Regions from separate parts of the Homo sapiens genome. Here regions 2 and 3 are each linked to region 1. The links come from fine-mapping of genetic effects on gene expression. A gene starts in region 1. Each other region holds a variant in brackets. All regions are shown on one strand. Distances are from middle to middle.

What was found.
Region 2: its variant is fine-mapped to the expression of RIPOR2 in whole blood (TOPMed, PIP above 0.99).
Region 3: its variant is fine-mapped to the expression of RIPOR2 in whole blood (INTERVAL, PIP above 0.99).

The regions. Positions count from the first base shown.
Region 1 is chr6:24,931,173-24,939,356 of GRCh38, reverse strand. It overlaps RIPOR2 (RHO family interacting cell polarization regulator 2), which reads left to right and starts at 3,397. Exons shown (of 22, transcript NM_001286445.3): 1 at 3,397-3,519. The coding sequence starts at 3,459. It overlaps LOC105374981 (a long non-coding RNA gene), which reads right to left and starts at 5,382. Exons shown (of 3, transcript XR_007059514.1): 1 at 5,293-5,382; 2 at 4,987-5,111. RefSeq lists an enhancer at 2,515-2,684.
Region 2 is chr6:24,813,828-24,822,011 of GRCh38, reverse strand. RIPOR2 (RHO family interacting cell polarization regulator 2) reads left to right here. Exons shown (of 22, transcript NM_001286445.3): 20 at 3,387-3,470. Among named protein-coding and RNA genes, the nearest start is that of ARMH2, 19 kb to the right of the region's middle. RefSeq lists a silencer at 970-1,098. The variant G/A (reference allele first, on the strand shown) is at 4,280.
Region 3 is chr6:24,995,576-25,003,759 of GRCh38, reverse strand. It overlaps a transcript of RIPOR2 not described here. Among named protein-coding and RNA genes, the nearest start is that of RIPOR2, 64 kb to the right of the region's middle. The variant G/A (reference allele first, on the strand shown) is at 4,734.

The DNA.
Region 1 (8,184 bases):
CTTAGGAGCCCACTCCCCTACTCTGCCTCCTTTGTCTAGTCACTTCTTCACAGTTTATTGCACTTTGTTAAAATTTTATATAAGCTCAGCATTCTTTTAGACTTTACATAGATAAGAGATAGTGTAGCCTGGTGTTTAAGAGTTTGGACTCTGGGATCAAATCTCAGTACCTCTACCACTTACCAAATGTATGACCTTGGGTGGATCACTTCACCTCTTGGGCCTTAAACTAAAATAGAGATAATAAATATATCTATATCTTAGGGTTGATATAGGAATTAAGTGAATCAAAGCACTTAAAACTGTTGCTGGCACTCTGTGTTAGCGATTACCTACATTTTTTTATTTGCTCATTTTGGACACTCATATAAATATAATTATACCATTTATAATTTTCTGAGACCTTTCAAAGTCAATATTATGTTTTTGAAACTCATCCATATTGATGCATGCATATGTAGTTTATTAATTTTTCTTTTTAGTTAACACATCATGCATGTATGTCATATCTCTCTAAGGTAATTGTAAACTTTGGAGAGCAAGAACCATGTTTTCTATCCTCTGTGCTTTCAAGGAGTTCGTGGTAGCATTTGTGATTTGTTCTTTGAGATGATTAGCTGTGTTTCTGAGATATCTAAATTGGAGAAGAGGAGACTGAGGGAAACTTCCTAAGGGTTATTGAGGTTTTATATGGAGTGTGGTGACTTCTCATTCTCTATCCCCATTGAGCCTTCAATTTGGGAAATATCCTAAGCGTCCCTGTGAGAGACTTAGGCGTATAATTATAACTGGGTATTTACTGTGTACCATGTACTGTGTCAGCTTCTTTACATAAATTATCCTACTTAATCCTCAAAACAAGCCAAATGAGAAAGTATATTATTTTCTAGGACTTCTGTAATGAAGTACCACAAACTGGGTGGCTTAAGCAACAGAAACTTACTGCATCACAGCTGTGGAGGCTAGAAGTCCAAGGTCAAGGTGTTGGCAGGATTGGTTCTTCTGAGGGATGTGAGGGAGAATCTCTTGCAGGCCTCTCCCCTAGCTCATGGTGGTTTACTGGCAGTCTTTGGTGTTCCTTGGCTTGTGGATCTCTGCCTTCATCTTCACATACTATCCTCCCTATGTCTATGTCTTTGTCTAAATCTCTCCTTTTTATGAGGAAGTTAGTCATATTGGATTAAGGACCCATCCTCCTCCAATATGATATAAGTTCATCCTAACTAATTATATCTTCAATGGCCCTGTTTCTAAGTAAGGTCACATTCTGAGGTACTGGGGGTTAGGACTTCAACATATGAATTCAACAGGGGAGACACAATTCCACCCACTTAAAATGAAACAGGCCTACAGAGGTTATGCTAACTTTTTGAAGTGGAATAGCTAGGGCCCTCAGGTTCACGTGGTAACCAGGTAGTTCTGAGGTGGGAGGTGAGGGAGGTAGTGCAGGTCCCCAAGAGCCACGGGGATGCTGCAGTGAACTGGACTGTGTGCAGTCACTCCCATAAGTTGTCCAGACATGAGGTAACAGAGTGAGCTCTGGAATTAGTCAAATCTGCCACTCACTAGCTGCCTGATCTTAGGAATGTTTTTCAAGCCCTCAGAGCCCCCATTGCTTCATCTGTAAAATGGGATAATAGCACCCACCTCATGAAGTTGTGGAGATTAAAGGACATAGGACAGTAGTTGAGAAATGTAGTGATTATCAAAATGGACACCCATCCTCTTATCCCAACCACACAAAAGAGAGCTTTAGTCCACATCCAAATTTCCTACACCTAGGCCCATTTTAATTAATTTAATTTATGTAACTAAGTGCAACCCTTGTCCAGAAACATCATTCAAGTGGGGATCATGGTAGGGGGTGGTAAAAGGGTCAGAAAGGGGAGATGCAAAGGAGAGCTAGAGAAAAGGATAACTCCAGTTCTCTGCCTGTCAGTGTGTCTCAAGGTGGGCATTATTGGTATTTGGAGCTGGACAGTTCTTCCTGTTGAGCTACTGTTCCATGCATTATGGTAAGGTTGATATCCCTGGGCCCCTGAGTGCTAAGACATTAAATACCAGTAATAACCCCCAGTCATTGTGCCACCCAAAACACCCCAGACATTTCCAAGCTCTCCTCTAAGGATGGTTCCAGCCCTGATTGACAACAATTGGTGATCCCAGCAGGACCCAAGCTGTACACTGTCTTTGGGAACTGCTGCAGCCACCAATGCAGGGATGAACTGACTGTTGCTGCTCAGTTAACCCTCAGTGTCTGATTCCTGAATTCCTCTGGGGTGATCCCTTCTCACTGCTGGATTTCTCCAACCCTGTTGTCCACAGTCTCTTCTGGGAGAAAATGGTGCAATTTCAAGGTTGCAGTTACAGGAGGAGGGGACAGTTTCTCTAGGGTAACACTGGGAGTATCTTCAAAACCATGCAGTAAATAAAGTGCCAAAAATAAACACCTTGGGTCAACAGCTCCTCACTGTCATCTCCATTTGCATTTTCTAAGCTTCTGGCCACCTAAGAGATCTTACAACACAGTGGAGTGCTCTGGGAAACCCCGAAATGAAGTCTCAGTATTACTCAGAGAGATGTGTGTTTGTTTGTGCAGCCAGACAGAATTTGGCACACGTTGGGTAGCTCGATATGGTGATGCCAGCCAATGGTGCTCGCGTAGAAGCTCAGTGTTCACTCATCCCTTTGGGAGGACTGCTTTTTGAGTTACATTTTCTTCTTTCTCCTTTAGTGATACAGTCTGAAGTATCAAACTGAGTAAATATTGTGAAATGCAAGATGTTTGACCAAAACCAGTTATCTATTCATTGACTATAGATTTAATCGAGCCACATAAAGCCTAGATATGGTTCAGTTTGGTTTAAATGCTGTAAAGTTTCCAATCCTTAAATGCAAGAGGTTTGAAAAAAAGAAAAGAAAAGAAAAGAAAAATGCAACTATTACTGAGCAAAATAAAAGCTCTGTCCTCTAAATGCCTGCTTTGGTTTAACATAGTGGCTTGCTTTACTTTCAGATAAATTGTAATTGAAGCAAAACCAAGATATGAGAAATATGAACTCCCTCTTTCAACAAAACCCATTGTGTTCAAATTCATAAGCAAGAAAGTTAAGCACCCACCTTCCTCTTTAAGGAAATATGAAAGTTGTTGCTTTGAAATAGAATTCATTGCATTCAGACTTTGAGTGATATCTGTATTCATATCCAACCGGATCTGCAGCCCTCTTCAAAAAATTCTTTCTCCTCAGTGGTGAGAATTACCCCACCTGGGATTCACTCTTCACAAGGCTCAAGAAGCCTATTCATATGAATGAAACTGCTTTCTTCAGGGCAGATGCGGAAGCTGCCCTCCAGAGGGCTTGGGCAACCCAAGGAAAGGAAATCACCTCGGTCGGCAGTGTGACTGCTGAGACTGCCGGGGCTGCTGCCTGCTGCTTCTCGCGCCTGTCCTCTCCAAGATGCAGTTTTTTGATGCTGAGGAGCTCCTGGTCGATGAAGAGGATGATGTTTTTGGTGAAGGTAAATGCATCTTTCTGGCAGGAGGCTCTCCGGTCTGCTTTGCTTTGTTTTGACACCACTGGACACTTTTGCCCAGCTTGGGCAAGGACTTGAGTATTTTGAAATGATAAAAACAAAGCATCCTGAGTGAGGTAGTGGCTGCAAATATCAACTTAGGCACTGAAGGAATACACAAGGCAAGGGGTGGAACAAGGGGTTGAGTCATTCCCGCAAATACATTTTTTAAAGTCATGACTAAAATAAAGGTTTAGTTTAGGCTGGAAAATAGTACTAAATTTTTTGCCTTGTCTCTCTTCTGTGCTATCTCTTGTCTAACACCTTAAGGAAAGCCTGTCACAGTGGTTTGAGCACAGCAGGGCTGCTAGGGAAGAAGTTAAATAAATGGACCAGGAGTGGTTTTTCATGGTACCATGTTGCTTTGATTTGCACTTCTCTCTTTCTGTCTCTCTCTCTCTCTGTCTCTCTCTCTCTGTCTATCTTTCTCTCGGTCCTTCTCTTTTTTTTTTTTTTTTTTTTTGTTGTTGTTTTTTGAGACAGAGTCTTGCTTTGTTGCTCAGGCTGGAGTGCAGTGGTGCAATCTCAGCTCACTGCAACCTCCGTCTCCCGGGTTCAAGTCATTCTCCTGCCTCAGCCTCCCAAGTAGCTGGGACTACAGGCGCCCACCACCATGCCCAGCTAATTTTTGTATTTTTAGTAGAGATGGGATTTTGCCATGTTGGCCAGGCTGGTCTTGAAATCCTGACTTCAGGTGATCCACCCTCCTTGGCCCCCCAAAGTGCTGGGATTACAGGCGTGAGCTACCATGCCCGGCCTGGGTCCTTCTCTCTTACTCTTCCTCACACATACTTGGCACTCCAACCCTCCATTCCCTTTTCCAATTTTCTTTTTTCCCAAGTCGGGATACTGGAGCCCTGGTAGCTTCCAATCCCCATTGGCACTGCTCAGTTTTCTGTTCTCATCTTGCAGCTTTTCCATGACTTGACCTATCCACTGGAATTTAACTGTAAAGGTTGCGATTTTAAAGGGATGATCTAGTCATTGGATGGATGTTTTGTTCAAATGCTGCCTATGAGATTGGGCTATAGGCAAAAGCTTTTTTAGAATTTGGAGCCACCTAAATAAAGGAAATTTGGACTCAAGAATCTCGTGAATTTGATTATTTTCCGCAAGAAACTACGTCTAGCAATTTTTTAAAAAACTCTATTCAGTAATTTTTTAAAAGGAACAGTAGTAAGGTTTTTGTGTATGTGTAATTACCCAAGCAATACAAGTTCGCTGAAGAAAAATTAGAGTGTCGCAAAGAACCCCTTGTAATCTAGTCATGTAGAATGTAATCATGGTTAATATTTTGATGTTGTCTTTCTGCTATGTTGTTCTAGCTACAGAAATATTTAAAATCATTAGTTGGGTTTTTATCACAACTTAAATCAATTTGAAGAATATCTATTGAGCTTCGCTGCTGTTTACCAAGTTATCATTCTGTTGTGTTACTTTGATGGCAGGCGTTTAGGCCACCAACACCTTGAAGTTTGATCTTAGGCCCCATTCTTCAGCTTTCACTTCTTAAAGATGTTTCCTCTTTAAGCAAACACCTTAAAGAGAAAATTTATACTTAGATACTAACTCTTTTGAGGACCTGAAAAATGCTCACAACTATGAAGATAAGCTTAGAACGGAAAAATTGGCAATCATTCACCCACACCTCCCTCCAGGAATGGCATTCCAAAACGCCCAGCCCACATTTCTTTGCCTATAGGAATTTTGCTCTTTTACATCTGGCTATGATACTTAAGAGCGCCCTCTATAGGCTGATGCACTGCACTCTGGATTATGCGTGGCCCCATCCTGAAGGGAAGCGTTAAGACCAAGCAGGGCTGGATGAACCTGTGTGTTCTCTCTCCTGAGCATTCATCATTTCCAAGGTGATTATTGTAACCTCACTAACCATGTTGTAGTGGAATGGCTGAGGTCCCCAGGTTCCAGGTAGCTAGGTAACCAGCTAGCTCTGAGGTGGGAAGTGAGGGAGGTAGTGCAGGTTGATAAGTTGGGAGTCAAACGAGATTCAGACTCAGATTCTGGTTCTGCTTCGTGGTACCCATACAAGCTAACTTTGGTCTCCTCAATGGTGAAGTGGGACAGTAATACCTATCGGTTGTACAGATTATCTTCATAGTAGATGCATAATGTTTGCGTTGCACTTCAATGTGGTATGCTTTATCTTTTCCAAACTGATTATCTCATTTAACTTAATCCCTAAAGATTAAAGAGAAAATCCTTGCAAGGCCAACATCCAGTGTATTTTTATTCAGTTTTCAGAGCCGTGGCTCATGTTTGGCAATTTATGTGAAAGCATGTCCAGCTGCTGCCTCATTTTAAGCAAGCTCTGTGTGGGGTAACAGTCAAAAGCTTCAGCTCTGGAATTGCACGGTCTAGGCTTTGCCAACCAATTCACTTATGACCTTAAGCAGGTTACCTAATCTCTCTGTGCCTCAGTTTACTCACTTATAAAATGGAGTCCAAACCTCATATGGCTGTGTGTGGCTTAAGTGTTATGATAGGGAAAGCTTTTAGAATAGTGGTCAGTACTTAATACATATGAATCCCTATTGTCTATTTACAAAAATGGGTTTATAGAATAGTGACCATTTTTTCACGTCTGGTTAACCTCAGATTCAAAATAGGACTTATTTACAGAACTTCAGTTTATAAATAACTTTTCAGAGGTTTAACGTGGCAGATATAGCACTGAACAAGTTGTTAGGAGTCTGAGTTGTAGCCTTGCCCCTGCTGTGGTATAGCTGGAGGATCTTGGGCAAGTCATTTATCTTCTTTGAGCCTCATTCTTCTTCTGAAACAAGGGGACTGATTACACATTCTCTGAGCATTCTACTACCCAGTCTCCAGTCTTTACTTCAAAATGATGTATCTACCTGTAAAAGTTCATGCTTGTTCTAGGATTCACGCATACTTTCAGCTCACTTAACATGCCTAAGCAGAAAGCTTTTGGCACAATGAGTTTTCCGTAACATAAAAAAAGGAAAATGCCCAGAAGCTTGTTATTAGGGCAACTATATTTCCTTGCAATTGACACATTTTTAAGATCCCTTTCTCCTAGAGGTTACACAGATTTAGAATTTAGGTGCATTTGCTTAAAAGTATATATAAATCCATTTAGATATATGGACACTATAAAGATCTGGGAAGAAAAAAAATGAGTCAATGAGTCATCCTCACAATGTATTTTTTAAACTGCCTTTCTGAGATCCTGTTTGCTTCAGCAATTGTTTTTTGTGGTTAAAGGAAATGTTAAGGTTCACAGAACTTCGGAGCATTGGTGTGTAACTGCTCTTGTTCTAAAACAGGTTGCATATAGTGAGAGAGAAAGAGAAAGAGAGACAGAAAGAAAAGGGATTCACCTACACACTGCAAATCCCAATGTCTGTTCTCTCTCTGTCTCTCCATCTGTTTCTTCTCTCTCTTTTTCTCTCTCTCATACACACACACACACACACACACACACACAGTCTTAAGTTTGCTTTCCTAACAACATCATCACGTCATTTAGAAAATGGTTACTCTCAAGTAGGCTTAATCTTTCCTGGAGAAATGATTCATTTGATTATCAAGGTAGTGAAAAACCAGTAGTTAGCCTTACAGACTCTTTTCCCATTGTTCTTTCAAACTTATCAAATTAAAGGGCTTTCATCTGTTTTGTCACTGTGTGATCTTGACAGCCAGTCTGGTCAGTGTTAGTGGAAATAACTGGATGGGTAATAATGGTAATGACTACAACAATGCTGCTGCTGCTGATGATGATGATGACAATGATGATGACAATTGAAAAAAGGAAAAAAGAAGGGCCATGCACAGTGTAGGTTCCTATCCTGCTTTCAAGAACAGAACAGAATTCACGTGTGGGAGCAAACGGCTCACCAGGTGGTGGTCAGTGAGTATTTTAGCAGCCAAAATTACTCCTTGGCACAAGTTAAAGCTGCAATTGCTTCTTTCCTTAGAAACGCAACCCGCCCCGCCTCCATTTTCAGCACTGCTCAGTAATCTTTTGTCAGGTGCAATGATTAGAATAATAAAACACCCCAAGTTCACAGTAAGTGTGCAAAGTATTTCTCAGGTTCTTGTATTTCCTGGACACTTACATGCCTTTTAAGATTATGCTTGAAGATCACAAGAAACTACAAAGCATTTGTCAGATTTTCAAATGTCCCCCAGAGCTGGTAGAGTGCAACTGAGCATGAGAATACTTCTGTCCTGGATAACTGTGTCTGAGAAAGTTGTTTCAACCTCCACAAAGGAGGGGAACTCTCCCAGATGGAGATGAACTGGCAAAAGGAAGTCCATTCAACCATTAGCTGCCTGTTGCTCTTAAGGAGACTAACAGCTGGTTGGAAAAAAATTGGCAGTCACTTTTGAACCAAGCCTCTCTCCTTTCTCCAAGCCAAGTAAGTTAGCACTTTTTCCTTTTCAAAGGGAACTTCAGGTCAGAGGGAGCAAGAAGACTACAAAACACTTAACACACACACACACACAAAAAGAATTGTAATTAGGATAAATACCTATTTTTTTTGTCTTTCCATGTAGGCTGTTTACAAAACCAAGGTAGTATTTTTCTTTTAATAGGTAAATAATTATGCAATCTGGTATAATCTG
Region 2 (8,184 bases), 120 kb after region 1:
TTTCCCTCTTTTACTCATATCAAGGGACTTGAAGGCTAACTATCAAACCATAGGTTTACCCCTTACCAAAACCACATATTCCAAGACTTAAATGGGTGATCACAACTTAAATTGTCCTTCCTCTCGGGCATGTTTGCATTATAACAATGCTTCAATAGGGATGAAATGCTAAAGATGACCTTGGTGTATATCCACCTCTGGAAATGGTAGCTTTGGAGGGGGTTGATGGCAAGTGGCACTTCAGGGACAGTCACCTTGTTCCTTTTGTACTGGAGGCTAGTCCCTGTGTAGCTGCCCACTTGTGGATTGAGGCTTATTTCCTCCCCTTTTGGCTGCTCACCCTCAAGTGAGTAGAGGCCAAAAGGCAAGCCAGAGAGAGGTTTTCAAAAGCCAAAGCCCAGGCTCTAACTATTTAGGTCTAGTAAAGAGCTAGTTACTGTTACTGCTTTTGTTCTTGCTGTAATAACCTATACTGCATATCTTTGTTTCCTTTAAGAGTGTTAAAACTTTAAGAGTGTTAAGCCACAGAGCTGGGCACTGTGGCTCACGCCTGTAATCCCAGCACTTTGGGAGGCCGAGGCGGGCGCATCACCTGAGGTCGGGAGTTTGAGACCAGCCTGACCAACATGGAGAAACCCCATCTCTACTAAAAATACAAAAAATTAGCTGGGCATGGTGGAGCATGCCTGTAATCCCAGCTACTTGGGAGGCTGAGGCAGGAGAATCGCTTGAACCCGGGAGGCAGAGGTTGCAGTGAGCCGAGATTGCACCATTGCACTCCAGCCTGGGCAACAAGAGCAACACTCCATCTCAAAAAAAAAAAAAAACAGTGTTAAACTGGCTGGGCGCGGTGGCTCACGCCTGTAATCCCAGAACTTTGGGAGGCTGAGGAGGGCAGATCATCTGAGGTCAGGAGTTCAAGACCAGCCTGGCCAACATAGTGAAACCCCATCCGTACTAAAAATACAAAAATTAGCCGGGTGTGGTGGCAGGCACCTATAATCCCAGCTACTCAGGAGGCTAAGGTGGGCGTATGGCTTGAACCCAGGAGGCGGAGTTTGCAGTGAGCTGAGATGGTGCCACTGTACTCCAGCCTGGGTTACCAAGAGAGACTCTCTCAAAAAAAAAAAAAAAAAAAAAAAGAGTGTTAAACCATATGTCCACACAAAAAAACCTTGTACACAGATGTTCATAGCAGCATTATTCATAATAACCAAAAAGTAGAAACAATCTGAAGGTTCATCAACTGGTGAATAAATAAAATGTGGTCTAGCCATATAATGGAATATTTTTTGGCCATAAAAAGAAATGCAATCCTAATACATCCTTCAACCTAGATGAGCCTTGAAGATACTATGCCAAATGAAAGAGCAAGACATAGGAGGCTACATATTGTGTGAATTCATTTATATGAAATGTCCAAAGTAGGCAAATCCATAGTAATGGAGAGTAGATTAGTGGTTGCCAGCGACTGGAGAGAAAGGGTCTTGGGAATGACTACTAATGGGTACAGGATTTCTTTTTGGGGTAATGAAAATATTCTGAAATCAGATGATGGGGATGATTTGTGAATATACTAAAAACCATTGAATTATACATGCTGTAGTCTAAATATTATGGTATATAAATTATATTTTCAATTTTTTTAAATGGAATTGTCCTATAAAACTGAGAAAACAGGGGCCGTGTGCAGTGGCTCACGCCTGTAATCCCAGCACTCTGGGAGGCCGAGGCGGACGGATCACAAGGTCAGGAGTTTGAGATCAGCCTGGCCAACGTGGTGAAACCCTGTCTCTACTAAAAATACAAAAATTAGCTGGGCATCATAGCATCCGCCTGTAATCCCAGCTACTAGGGAGGCTGAGGCAGGAGAATCGCTTGAACCCGGGAGGCGGAGGTTGCAGTGAGCCAAGTTTGTGCCATTGCACTCCAGCCTGGGCAATAAGAGTGAAACTCCATCTCCAAAAATAAATAAATAAATAAAAATAGAAAATAAAAGTAATTCAGACAAATAGCAAGAAATGCACAATATAGCCCAACAAAATCAAAAGTTAGTCCTCTCTTTCCACCCTCAATTCTCTTCAAGAGTAATTAAGTTTCCTATGAACCAATATGACATATAGTGATTCTTATTCATTTGAATTAATGTTAAGTACTACACATTTTATCAACCATTTAGGAAGAAATTAGCTTGGTAAAAATAAGACAATTGGCCGGGTGCAGTAGCTCACGCCTGTAATCCCAACACTTTGGGAGGCCGAGGTGGGCGGATCACAAGGTCAGGAATTCAAGACCAGCCTGGCCAATATGGTAAAATCCTGTCTCCACTAAAAAAAAAAAAAAAAAAAATTAGCTGGGCGTGGTGGTGGGCACCTGTAATCGAGGTAGGAGAATCTCTTGAACCCGGGAGATGGAGGTTACAGTGAGCCGAGATCACACCACTGCACTCCAGCCTGGGCCACAGAGCGAGATTCTGTCTCAAAAAAAAAAAAGATAATGTACTTTTATGCAGAGATTTTTTAAACAGAGCATTCATTTGCCATGTATCAAACTCAGCAAATCTCAAACTGACATTACCACCCTCCTCACTGGAATGTACTGCCTCCTCCTGTCTTCCTTATTTCTGACTGAATACCTTTTTTTCAATCAACTTCCCTACTGAAATCTAAGCCATCATTTCCATTCCAGTTCAAACATTTTTGTGAAACTTACCCTGGCACTCCGTAAGATGTCTCTTCTCCAAGTGACTGACTTACCTTGTAGATTTCTTATGGGACCTAATACATTTCTTCTCTTCAGTTCCTTCTAAACAGTCTTAGCATTTCTACTACATCTAAGGGCTCCTTAAAAGCCAGAATCATAACTCTCTCCCAATTTTATTTAATAAATTGATCCCTTATATTCTCCTAGAGTCATGGACTCTAGGAGAATATTTCAAATCTTGGAATGACACATGAGACAAGGGGCAGGAGCTTGCAGGCCTTTATGATGGGACATAAAGAAAGGGATTAACACCTTAAAAGAAAAAGTTAATGATCTGGGATCAAAAACAGCTCTGAGAAATTTTGCCTTCCTCGTTACTTGGTTTAAAAAATTACCTTTAGGTGGCCAATAAAAGCCCACGGTCATTATGTTACTCAATAAATTGATCCCTTATGTTCTCCTAGAGTCATAGTAGATCTAGGAGAACATAAGGGATCAATTTATTGAATAAACGACTCTTTTAATTAATATGAATTTCAATGGCTTTTTTTTTCTTGCTCTGAAGGTAGTGCAAAATGTGTAGGTTATATGCTATAGTTTATCTCAGAGAGTAAGAATGAGGTATACCTCTTAAACTACGAACAAACCAAAATGCCTTCATGAGGTCCCTCCTTCTCTTTCAGGCCTTGCTCTATTACTGTGAAGCACTAACAAAGACAAACCTCCAGCTCCAGAAAGCAGCTTGCCTGGCTCTGAAAATCCTTGAGGTAAAGCCCAGCCTTGGAGCTCCCCTGGCAGCTCAGCTTGGAGCCAGGCTAAGCTGAGTGTATATAACAGCTTTTCTTTCATGTTTGAAAGTACTTTTTTAGCAGTATTTCTTGTCTTCTTTGCACCGTATGTTAGTTTTAGTATTTTTCTCCCTTAAACAGTAATTACATGTGACTTTGTTTTGTTAAAGTCAATAAGTGGCAGAAAGCAATCATGTTTTGCACTAGCCCAAGGGAACCAGTTTGCCTTTAGGTCAGTATTAGAAAAGTACATCTTATTAGCCGGCACAGTGGCTCATGCCTGTAATCCCAGCATTTTGGGAGGCCGAGGCCGGTGGATCACCTGAGGTCAGGAGTTTGAGATCAACCTGGCCAACATGGTGAAACCTCATCTCTACAAAAATACAAAAACTAGCTGGGCATGATGGCAGGTGCCTGTAATCCCAGCTACTCAGGAGGCTGAGGAGGGAGAATTGCTTGAACCCAGGAAGTTGCAGTGAGCCAAGATTGTGCCATTGTACTCCAGCCTGGGTGGCAGAGCCAGACTCTGTCTCAAAAAAAAAGAGAGAGAGAGAGAAAAGGAAAGTATATCTTATTTTAAAAGGGAGATGAGATGTATGGTGATTTCACTCATTTTTATTGTGAACAACAAAAAGCAAGGACAAATAAGATTTGAAAAGAAGTACTAAATTCAGTATGCCACTGAATTCCCAGATCCTTCCCCGCAAGCTCTCTTTATTAAGCAGAGAACCAGTTTTGATTGTCATAAGGAGGTGTCGTGAGCAGGGAGAGAGCTAGAATGTAAACAA[G/A]TACTAAACGGAACAATAATACCACCGAGGAGGAGCCAAGATGGCCGAATAGGAACAGCTCCGGTCTACAGCTCCCAGCGTGAGCGACGCAGAAGACGGGTGATTTCTGCATTTCCATCTGAGGTACCGGGTTCATCTCACTAGGGAGTGCCAGACAGTGGGCGCAGGCCAGTGTGTGTGCGCACCGTGTGCGAGCCGAAGCAGGGCGAGGCATTGCCTCACCTGGGAAGCGCAAGGGGTCAGGGAGTTCCCTTTCCGAGTCAAAGAAAGGGGTGACGGACGCACCTGGAAAATCGGGTCACTCCCACCCGAATATTGCGCTTTTCAGACCGGCTTAAGAAACGGCGCACCACGAGACTATATCCCACACCTGGCTCAGAGGGTCCTACGCCCACGGAATCTCGCTGATTGCTAGCACAGCAGTCTGAGATCAAACTGCAAGGCGGCAACGAGGCTGGGGGAGGGGCGCCCGCCATTGCCCAGGCTTGCTTAGGTAAACAAAGCAGCCGGGAAGCTCGAACTGGGTGGAGCCCACCACAGCTCAAGGAGGCCTGCCTGCCTCTGTAGGCTCCACCTCTGGGGGCAGGGCACAGACAAACAAAAAGACAGCAGTAACCTCTGCAGACTTAAGTGTCCCTGTCTGACAGCTTTGAAGAGAGCAGTGGTTCTCCCAGCACGCAGCTGGAGATCTGAGAACGGGCAGACTGCCTCCTCAAGTGGGTCCCTGACCCCTGACCCCCGAGCAGCCTAACTGGGAGGCACCCCCCAGCAGGGGCACACTGACACCTCACACGGCAGGGTATTCCAACAGACCTGCAGCTGAGAGTCCTGTCTGTTAGAAGGAAAACTAACAACCAGAAAGGACATCTACACCGAAAACCCATCTGTACATCACCATCATCAAAGACCAAAAGTAGATAAAACCACAAAGATGGGGAAAAAACAGAACAGAAAAACTGGAAACTCTAAAACGCAGAGCGCCTCTCCTCCTCCAAAGGAACGCAGTTCCTCACCAGCAACAGAACAAAGCTGGATGGAGAATGATTTTGACGAGCTGAGAGAAGAAGGCTTCAGACGATCAAATTACTCTGAGCTACGGGAGGACATTCAAACCAAAGGCAAAGAAGTTGAAAACTTTGAAAAAAATTTAGAAGAATGTATAACTAGAATAACCAATACAGAGAAGTGCTTAAAGGAGCTGATGGAGCTGAAAACCAAGGCTCGAGAACTACGTGAAGAATGCAGAAGCCTCAGGAGCCGATGCGATCAACTGGAAGAAAGGGTATCAGCAATGGAAGATGAAATGAATGAAATGAAGCGAGAAGGGAAGTTTAGAGAAAAAAGAATAAAAAGAAATGAGCAAAGCCTCCAAGAAATATGGGACTATGTGAAAAGACCAAATCTACGTCTGATTGGTGTACCTGAAAGTGATGTGGAGAATGGAACCAAGTTGGAAAACACTCTGCAGGATATTATCCAGGAGAACTTCCCCAATCTAGCAAGGCAGGCCAACGTTCAGATTCAGGAAATACAGAGAACGCCACAAAGATACTCCTCGAGAAGAGCAACTCCAAGACACATAATTGTCAGATTCACCAAAGTTGAAATGAAGGAAAAAATGTTAAGGGCAGCCAGAGAGAAAGGTCGGGTTACCCTCAAAGGAAAGCCCATCAGACTAACAGCGGATCTCTCGGCAGAAACCCTACAAGCCAGAAGAGAGTGGGGGCCAATATTCAACATTCTTAAAGAAAAGAATTTTCAACCCAGAATTTCATATCCAGCCAAACTAAGCTTCATAAGTGAAGGAGAAATAAAATACTTTATAGACAAGCAAATGCTGAGAGATTTTGTCACCACCAGGCCTGCCCTAAAAGAGCTCCTGAAGGAAGCGCTAAACATGGAAAGGAACAACCGGTACCAGCCGCTGCAAAATCATGCCAAAATGTAAAGACCATCGAGACTAGGAAGAAACTGCATCAACTAATGAGCAAAATCACCAGCTAACATCATAATGACAGGATCAAATTCACACATAACAATATTAACTTTAAATATAAACGGACTAAATTCTGCAATTAAAAGACACAGACTGGCAAGTTGGATAAAGAGTCAAGACCCATCAGTGTCCTGTATTCAGGAAACCCATCTCACGTGCAGAGACACACATAGGCTCAAAATAAAAGGATGGAGGAAGATCTACCAAGCCAATGGAAAACAAAAAAAGGCAGGGGTTGCAATCCTAGTCTCTGATAAAACAGACTTTAAACCAACAAAGATCAAAAGAGACAAAGAAGGCCATTACATAATGGTAAAGGGATCAATTCAACAAGAGGAGCTAACTATCCTAAATATTTATGCACCCAATACAGGAGCACCCAGATTCATAAAGCAAGTCCTCAGTGACCTACAAAGAGACTTAGACTCCCACACATTAATAATGGGAGACTTTAACACCCCACTGTCAACATTAGACAGATCAACGAGACAGAAAGTCAACAAGGATACCCAGGAATTGAACTCAGCTCTGCACCAAGCAGACCTAATAGACATCTACAGAACTCTCCACCCCAAATCAACAGAATATACATTTTTTTCAGCACCACACCACACCTATTCCAAAATTGACCACATAGTTGGAAGTAAAGCTCTCCTCAGCAAATGTAAAAGAACAGAAATTATAACAAACTATCTCTCAGACCACAGTGCAATCAAACTAGAACTCAGGATTAAGAATCTCACTCAAAGCCGCTCAACTACATGGAAACTGAACAACCTGCTCCTGAATGACTACTGGGTACATAACGAAATGAAGGCAGAAATAAAGATGTTCTTTGAAACCAACGAGAACAAAGACACCACATACCAGAATCTCTGGGACGCATTCAAAGCAGTGTGTAGAGGGAAATTTATAGCACTAAATGCCTACAAGAGAAAGCAGGAAAGATCCAAAATTGACACCCTAACATCACAATTAAAAGAACTAGAAAAGCAAGAGCAAACACATTCAAAAGCTAGCAGAAGGCAAGAAATAACTAAAATCAGAGCAGAACTGAAGGAAATAGAGACACAAAAAACCCTTCAAAAAATCAATGAATCCAGGAGCTGGTTTTTTGAAAGGATCAACAAAATTGATAGACCGCTAGCAAGACTAATAAAGAAAAAAAGAGAGAAGAATCAAATAGACACAATAAAAAATGATAAAGGGGATATCACCACCGATCCCACAGAAATACAAACTACCATCAGAGAATACTACAAACACCTCTACGCAAATAAACTAGAAAATCTAGAAGAAATGGATACATTCCTCGACACATACACTCTCCCAAGACTAAACCAGGAAGAAGTTGAATCTCTGAATAGACCAATAACAGGCTCTGAAATTGTGGCAATAATCAATAGTTTACCAACCAAAAAGAGTCCAGGACCAGATGGATTCACAGCCGAATTCTACCAGAGGTACAAGGAGGAACTGGTACCATTCCTTCTGAAACTATTCCAATCAATAGAAAAAGAGGGAATCCTCCCTAACTCATTTTATGAGGCCAGCATCATTCTGATACCAAAGCCGGGCAGAGACACAACCAAAAAAGAGAATTTTAGACCAATATCCTTGATGAACATTGATGCAAAAATCCTCAATAAAATACTGGCAAACCGAATTCAGCAGCACATCAAAAAGCTTGTCCACCATGATCAAGTGGGCTTCATCCCTGGGATGCAAGGCTGGTTCAATATACGCAAATCAATAAATGTAATCCAGCATATAAACAGAGCCAAAGACAAAAACCACATGATTATCTCAATAGATGCAGAAAAAGCCTTTGACAAAATTCAACAACCCTTCATGCTAAAAACTCTCAATAAATTAGGTATTGATGGGACGTATTTCAAAATAATAAGAG
Region 3 (8,184 bases), 64 kb before region 1:
AGGTAATGCTACCTTTAAAGGAGATTTTAGGCCAGGCATGGTGGCTCATGTTTGTAATGCCAGCACTTTGGGAGGCCAAGGTGGGCAGATAGCTTGAGCCCAGAAGGTGGAGACCAGACTGGGCAACATAGTAAGACCCCGTCTCCACCAAAAAATAGAAAAATTACCCAGGTGTGGTGGTGCACGCATGTAGTCCCAGCTACTTGGGAGGCTGAGGTGCAAGGATCACTTGAGCCCAGGGAGGTTGAGGCTACACTGAGCCATGACTGCGCCACTGCACTCCAGTCTGGGCAACAGAATGAGATCCTGTCTCGAAAAGAAGAAAAAGGAGATGATAATAATAATAATAATAATAATAATAATAATAATAATAATGTGTTAATTCTGAAAAACTGATAATTCATGTAGACCTCTTTCAAAGAGGAAAGAGTTAAATAAAAATAAATCTTGAGATACCTCTTACCCAATGATACTCTCAAAGGCTGAAGTCAAAATATGTTTTCTGCATTTTCTTCCATGATTGCTGAATGGTTTTGTGTTTTAGAAATGCATGCTCTGAGAAAGGTTACTTAGAAAGTTTTAAAGATTCGACCCTATGTGAACGGTCGAGAAGTGACTCACCAATCTTTTCTCTCTACAATCTAATCCGCTTGATAAAAATAAAAGTGAATCGTAAACATGTTTTATAAAACCTGTTCCATGTTTTAACCATAAAATGTTCCATGGAATATAAAACATAAAAATGTTCCATGTTTTAACTGCAGAAATATTCGCAGGAGCTGCAACCCTTATGAACTTGTCTTAAATCACTTTTTGTACTTGGATCTTTTGCAAATTGCAAAAGGCACATTGCCGGCTGCAACTTCGGACGAACCACACATTCCATTTCAAGATGGCTGTTTAATCTTTCTCAGACTTGACAATGCTCAGGCAATTGTCACCATGACGTTCATTCACCTCGGACTGCCACTTTCCTGTGGCTGCCATCACTTCTACATGTGGTATTTTTGATTGACACCGTGCCAGGTGGAGCTGAGTCCCTGCTTTCATTCTTGTCCAGGGATTTTGTGACAAAAAGCTGAATGTGATTCAGAAAGAAATAACATGTTGTATATCTAAAACACCTGGTTGTCTTTAAAGGGCACTGTTGCTTCTGCAGGTTCCTTCAGTATTTGTAAGGAGAAAACATGAAATACAGGTTTTGCTTTCTATGGAAACGTGCAGGAAGTAAAAAAGCTTCCACTTCTTGAGCGTTCACTGAATAGATAAGGAAATGTGAATGATTCACAGTGGACCTTATTTCCTAAAGCATGTTGAACATATTTAAACAACAAAAAGATGAACAATGAAGAAATACATACCATTTGGATAAGTCCTTCTGTAACAGGTGGTTGTTATCTTAATTTTTATGAATGTAGAGTCTACGAGTTGGAGGACATACGTTATGTTCTTGTCCACAGAATTTGTACTTTACCATAGTATTTGGTAAGAAAATACCCAATACTTATATGGTTGTCCTAACGTTTAGGTAATTTTGTTTTAAATGCCATTTACTGAATGCTCTAGTCATACCTATAGTCTAAGGAAAAGGTTGGCACACTATGATTGGTATACCTAGTGCAGCTCACTGCTGTTTTGTATATACAGTTTTATTGGAACATAGCCAACCTCATTTGCTAATAATTTGTCTATGCCTGTTTTCAACTACAATGGTAGAGCTGAATAGTTGCATCAGAGAAAGTAAGGCCCACAGGCTGGGCGCAGTGGCTCACACCTGTAATGCCAGCACTTCGGGAGGCTGAGGCGGGTGGATCACAAGGTCAGGAGATCGAGGCTGTCCTTGCTAACATGGTGAAACCCCATCTCTACTAAAAATACAAAAAAAAGAAAAAAATAGCCAGGCATGGTGGCACGCGCCTGTAGTCCCAGCTACTTGGGAGGCTGAGGCAGGAGAATCACTTAAACCCGGGAGGCGGAGGTTGCAGTGAGCCAAGATCGCGCCACTGCACTCCAGCCTGGGCGACAGAGCGAGACTATGTTTAAAAAAAAAAAAAAAAAGAAAGAAAGGAAAAAGAAAGTAAGGCCCACAAAGCCTAAAATATTTACTCCGTGATTTTTTTTTTTTTTTTTTTTTTGAGATGAAGTCTCGCTCTGTCGCCCAGGCTGAAGTGCAGTGGCGTGATCTTGGCTCAATGCAACCTCTGCCTCCTGGGTTCAAGCAATTCTCCTGCCTCAGCCTCCTGAGTAGCTAGGATTACAGGTGCCCGCCACCGCGCCCAGCTAATTTTTTTGTATTCTTAGTAGAGACGGGGTTACACCATGTTGGCCAGGCTGGTCTCAAACTCCTGACCTCGTGATCCGCTCACCTCAGCCTCCCAAAGTGCTGGGATTACACGCGTGAGCCACTGCACCCAACTACTCTCTGATCTTTTACAGAAAAAGTTTGCTAACCCCTGACCTAAGTTATTAAAATTTTAGGACTGAAAATATGTATATTGTCTCTGTATTTGTATGATTACATAAATGCATATGTGTATACCTATATGTAGCTACATATGCATATATACCTATGTATGGTATACATACACATATGCAAATATATAAATATGTGTATAAGCATATAGATACATGAGTATATGTGTGTTTACACGTATATATGTGCATGTATATGTACATGTGCGTATGTGTGTGCACATGCACCAGATTAATTGAATTCTAAGCAGGACATCGCTAGGGAATGGTATCTTTAATTACACCTGAAAAAAAATCGAGGTCCGCAGCCCCTTTCCTGAACATACTGACTGGCCCTCCTCCATTTAAGTGGTAAATGATGCCTGGTCAATATACAGGAATTATGTTCTTTGCCTCCTCCACTTATGGGTCCATCTCTGGAGAAAGCATTTCTCCACGGATGTTTATAGCCAAGAACTTGAGTCAGTATTTCCTTGCTGCTGGTCCAGCATGCTGGGGAACAACAAAAGCAGCAATGCTGGGGAACTTCGGGGCAGCAGGCTCAGTGCTGGATTCCTTGGTGAGAACCTTCTACTTTTCCACAGAGATACTCCAGGCCCCACCAAGAGCAGAAAGAAAAGCCAGCACGGGAAGAAAAAAAAAAGGAAAAAGCAGTACAGAAAGAAAATAGAGGCTGGCTGTATGTAAAACATGAACAATGTAGCCTAACATTGTTAATTAATTTTAGTTTGGGAAAAAGAAGTGCTGCATTAACTGTAGATTAAAATACAGATATAAAACCCCTCAAGCCAGATATTCATGAGTTCACTTATTCATTTAATAAATGACTAATTGAGCACTTACTATGTGTCAGGGACAGGGCTGGGCTCAGGAGATACAACAGTGCACAGGATACACTCCCTGCCCTTACAGACCTGACAGTACAGTCGGGGAGGAAGATGGGTGAACTCTTACATTGGAGTGCATTGTGTGAGTTTTCGCGAGTGGTCAGCATGGAGTGCTACAGAGCTAACATGAAGGATGCCCAAACTTCCTGACACCTTCATTGGTCAGGAAAGGGTTCCTGGAGGAAGCAACCTCTAATGGAGAGTGAAGTGAAAGTAAGAGTTGTCCAGGTGAAAAGACACCAGTAAGAACCTTCTAGGCAAGAGTGCCAATGTGTGCATAGGACTAGACTTGAGAGAGACCATGGTATTGGGGATATGCAAATGGCCCTGGGTGGCTGGGGCCATGAAGGCAAAAGATGAAGGGTGGCAAGGAATTGGGCAAGGCATACTTGAAGCTAAAAATCTCAGTCAGCTGGCTGACCTTCTCTCACCACCACCTGATACTGATGGGCTCAGAGAGGTCCCCAAACATGGTTGAGACCTCGACTCCAGCTGGTGTCCAGGCTCTTGACACTGTTGCAAGAAGGAATTCAAGGATGAGTCAGGGCTGGGCGCGGTAGCTCATGCCTGTAATCCCAGCACTTTGGGAGGCTGAGGCAGGTGGATCAGGAGGCCAGGAGATCAAGACCATCCAGGCTAACACAGTGAAACCCTGTCTCTACTAAAAATACAAAAAAATTAGCCAGGCGTGGTGGTGGGCGCCTGTAGTCCCAGCTACTTGGGAGGCTGAGGCAGGAGAATGGCGTGAACCCGGGAGGTGGAGCTTGCAGTGAGCCGAGATCATGCCACTGTGCTCCAACCTGGGGAACAGAGCGAGACTCTGTCTCAAAAAAAAAAAAAAAGGATGAGTCAGAAAATAGTGAAAGTACAGAGATTTGTTGCAGAGGGAAAATTACACACTCAAGAGAAGGGAATGTGGTTGTAGACAAGAGTCATGCACAAGGGGGTTTGGGGTTGCTACCTTCATGGGTTTCTTTAACCAAAGCAAGGGGTGGAATATTCACGAAAATTCCTGGGAAAAGGTGGAGATTTCTCAGAATTGTCATGCCGCCCACTTTTCCAGCAAGTATAGATGTTCTTGGAACTGTCATGGCACTGGCAGGTGTGTGATTTGTATGTTAATGAGCATATAATAAGGTCCTAGGTGAAACCTAAGTAGGATCCAGCTCCATGTTGGGTCCAGTCAGTCTCAGTCAGCTTGGTCCACACCTGGTTTTTCAGGGTCTTATCAGCCCATAGCCTCTAGTTATGTGAAACTGCTGCCTGGAATTTTTATTCTCCTGTAACCACCCTGTAAGTTTCCTGTCTCACATCCAAATCAACATCCCCAAGATTCCCTATCAGCCTTCATTTGATCTCCCAGATCAATTAGGA[G/A]GAAGGAACACTCTGATTCAGTGCTATGTGGAGTCACCCTGGAGCCTGAGGCAAAAGGAATATGCATCCCTATAGTGTACATTCACCCAAAAATGTTCCTATAGTTTGTGGAAGAAGTCAATACAAGCTCTACAATAAAAAAAAAAAAATGACTGCATATAAAGTTCCACATTGTCCAATCTGTTCCCGTGCCATTGTCAACTCTCATTGACAAGGTCTGTCCTGGCCAACCTTGGGCCGATTGGAATTCCTGTTCCACAATAACCCAGGGTCATAAAACAAATAACAGCAGCCTGTCTTCACCTAATTTTTTGATATTTTGTTTATTGTAGATTTTTTTTGCCCATAGTCTATAGATGAGAAATATATAGGATCCAGGTGGTAAAAAATCATGTGAAAAATGGTAAGCAGTTTGCATTTTGTATAGGGGCAATGGAGAGACGTTGAAAGGCTTTGAACATGGAAACAAAGGAATCAGATTTTCTGGGTTAGAAATATCATTCTAGTTGCAGATTTGAGGGTAGATTTGGGATGCTAGATTTTTTGATAGAAACATCTGTATTTATAGTCACCAAAAATATCCCTTGGGGGATTGCTATTAACTTTATAAAAATGGTTTGCAATATAAAATCCTTGTAAATGAGAAATACATTTGTAAATATGTACTGATTTGTACATATGTCTGATGGTAAATTTGATTATTCACAACTTTTCAAAAACACACTCCTGTGTTTTTGCAAGTGATCATTTTGTTGAGATTCTCAAAGAATTACTTGAGCAAGCTGATGAACACATCATGGAGTATAAATTGCAGAGGAGACCGTTTTCTATCCAAAACACAAGAAAACAAACAGATTGAGGAAGTTAAGGGGAAAAGGAGAAAAAGAGGGGCTTGGCAGTTTAAGAGTGTGGGCTAATTTACATCTGAAAATCCTCTCTCATGCTGTTCTCTGCACCTGGAATACCCTCCCCACCGCCTATTCAATTTCAAGGCCCAAATCAAGCTCTATTCCTAAGACTTTTTTGATTGCTCCAGTGCATCCAATCTCCTTTTCCCCTTTAGTTAGTGGCCCTGAAACCTAAGTGTGAGAATCACCCAAAGGACTTACCGAAGCAAAGTTTTGGTTTCAGTAGGTCTGGAGTGGGGACTGAGGATGTATTTCCAACAAGTTCCCAGATGATGCTGATGCTGCTCACGGGCCACACTTCGGGAATCACTGCTTTAAACCAGTGCGTGTTTCTCAGACTTTAATGTGCATACAGATCACCTGGGGGTCTTGCAAAGGATGCTACACTGAGCTCTATATCAATGGTTTTCAACAAAGGATGACTTTACTCCCAGGGAACATTTGGACATGTTGGACATTTTTGGTTGTTATATACTGTGGCAGTAGGAAGTGAGGAGTGCTTTTGCTTGTTACTGGCATCTAGTGGGTAGGGGCCAGAGATGCTTCAAAACATCCTACAATGCCAAGGACAGCCTCCCACAATCAAGAATTATCTAACCCAAAATACCACTGTTGGGAAACCTTGATTTAAACCATACAATTTAGATACCATCACCATTTGCTATTGCTCATGGAGGCTGTAAGGACTGCAGTTTCCTAAAAGCAAGCACTATGTCTAATATAGAAATTCTGAGGCTCTTCCTCTTTCTGGGCCAAATACTACCTTCCCACCCCACCTCCCCTCCAAATGCCTAACGCAGTGTTTACTACATAGTGAGCATACAGGAAAAGGTTTTTTAAATTAACTACCTAGGAACACTCAAACTAGTGGTTCTCAGGCTTAACTGTATATTAGAATCACCTGGGGAGTTTTTTAAAACACAAATGCCTGCATCCCACCAACAGAGATTCTGATTTCATTGTTGTGTGCTATGGCCTGCATGTTGGGAGTTTTAAAAGCTCTGCAGGTGAGCCCAATGAGCAGACAAGGTTGAAAATCATTGGACTCCATCCTCGCTAGTTAGTAATTCACATTTGAAACTGTGAGATTGAGAAGGAACACTTGTAGCCGCTTCAGCGTATGTATGATTGCCCCTAAGGAAAACCCATTCCAAAACAAGTTAGACCCATAAAATGTCATTAATTTCCAAGTAGTTGTTCTGTACCGCCTGTGAGTTGTCCATTATGCTATGTGCTAGGAATACAAAATTGAAAAGTTTAAGGGCTCTGCCTTCTAGGGACCTCCTAGTGCAATGGAGAAGTTAACTATGAACAATACAGTAAGTGCTATAATAGAAGCCTGTATAAAGTGCCTGAGTCACGCAGAGGAAGTATCACACTAAAGGAAGTGGCTTACTTTTCCCAAGGGCTCAGAAGAATTGGGGAAGGGGTTCTTAGAGAAGCCTCTCACCTGGGTGTTGAAAGTAAACAGTGTTGATTGGAAATGTCAAGTACATCAGCGTGGTTGGACACAGTTGGACTAGCTGGTGTTAAAGGAAGCAGAAACAGTGGTGGGAGGGAAGGGAAAGGGGCAGCACAGGGCTTGAGGGCATAAGGCCATTCATGAAGAGCTGCATGCTCAGGGGTCAGGACTGTATAGACGAGAGGCAGCCAGCGATGGTTAAACAGAGAAGTGATCTGAGGAGGTGAGCTCACTGTGATCCCCACCTCCTCTGCACACTTGAGGGCTGTAATTAAAAGATGCATTCATCAACTCCTGTTGTGCAATAACCCAGGGTCATAAATCAAATAACAGCAGGCTGTCTTTTTCTAATTTTTTTGATCTTTTGTTTATCGTAGATTTTCTGCCCATAGTTCATAGATGAGACCTGAAAAATATGTAGGATCCAGGTGGTGAAAGACCACATGAAAAATGATAAGTAGTTTGCACTTTGTCTAGGGACAATAAGGAAACATTGAAAGACTTTAAGCATGGAAATAAAGGAATTTTATTTTCTAGGTTAAAAATATCACTCTAGGCCAGGCGTGGTGGCTCACGCCTATAATCCCAGCACTTTGGGAGGCCGAGGCAGGTGGATCACGAGGTCAGGAGATCAAGACCATCCTGGCTAACACGGTGAAACCTCGTCTCTACTAAAAATACAAAAAATTAGCCGGGTGTGGTGGTGGGCGCCTGTAGTCCCAGCTCCTAGGGAGGCTGAGGCAGGAGAATGGCATGAACCCGGGAGGCGGAGCTTGCAGTGAGCTGAGATCACGCCACTGCACTCCAGCCTGGGGCGACAGAGCGAGATTCCATCTCAAAAAAAAAAAAAAAAAAATCACTCTAGTTGCAGATTTGAGAGTAGATTTGGGATGTTAGATCTTCATAGAAACATCTGTATTTATACAGATATAAAATATCCCTTGGGGAATTGCTATGAACTTTATTAAAATGGTTCACAATATAAAGAATGACTTGAGAACATATAAGAGGTACCTTGTATGTTGTATTCTCTGTAAGCAGAGCTTTGTGGAGTTGTGCGAGACTGCAGCCCTGCCACCTT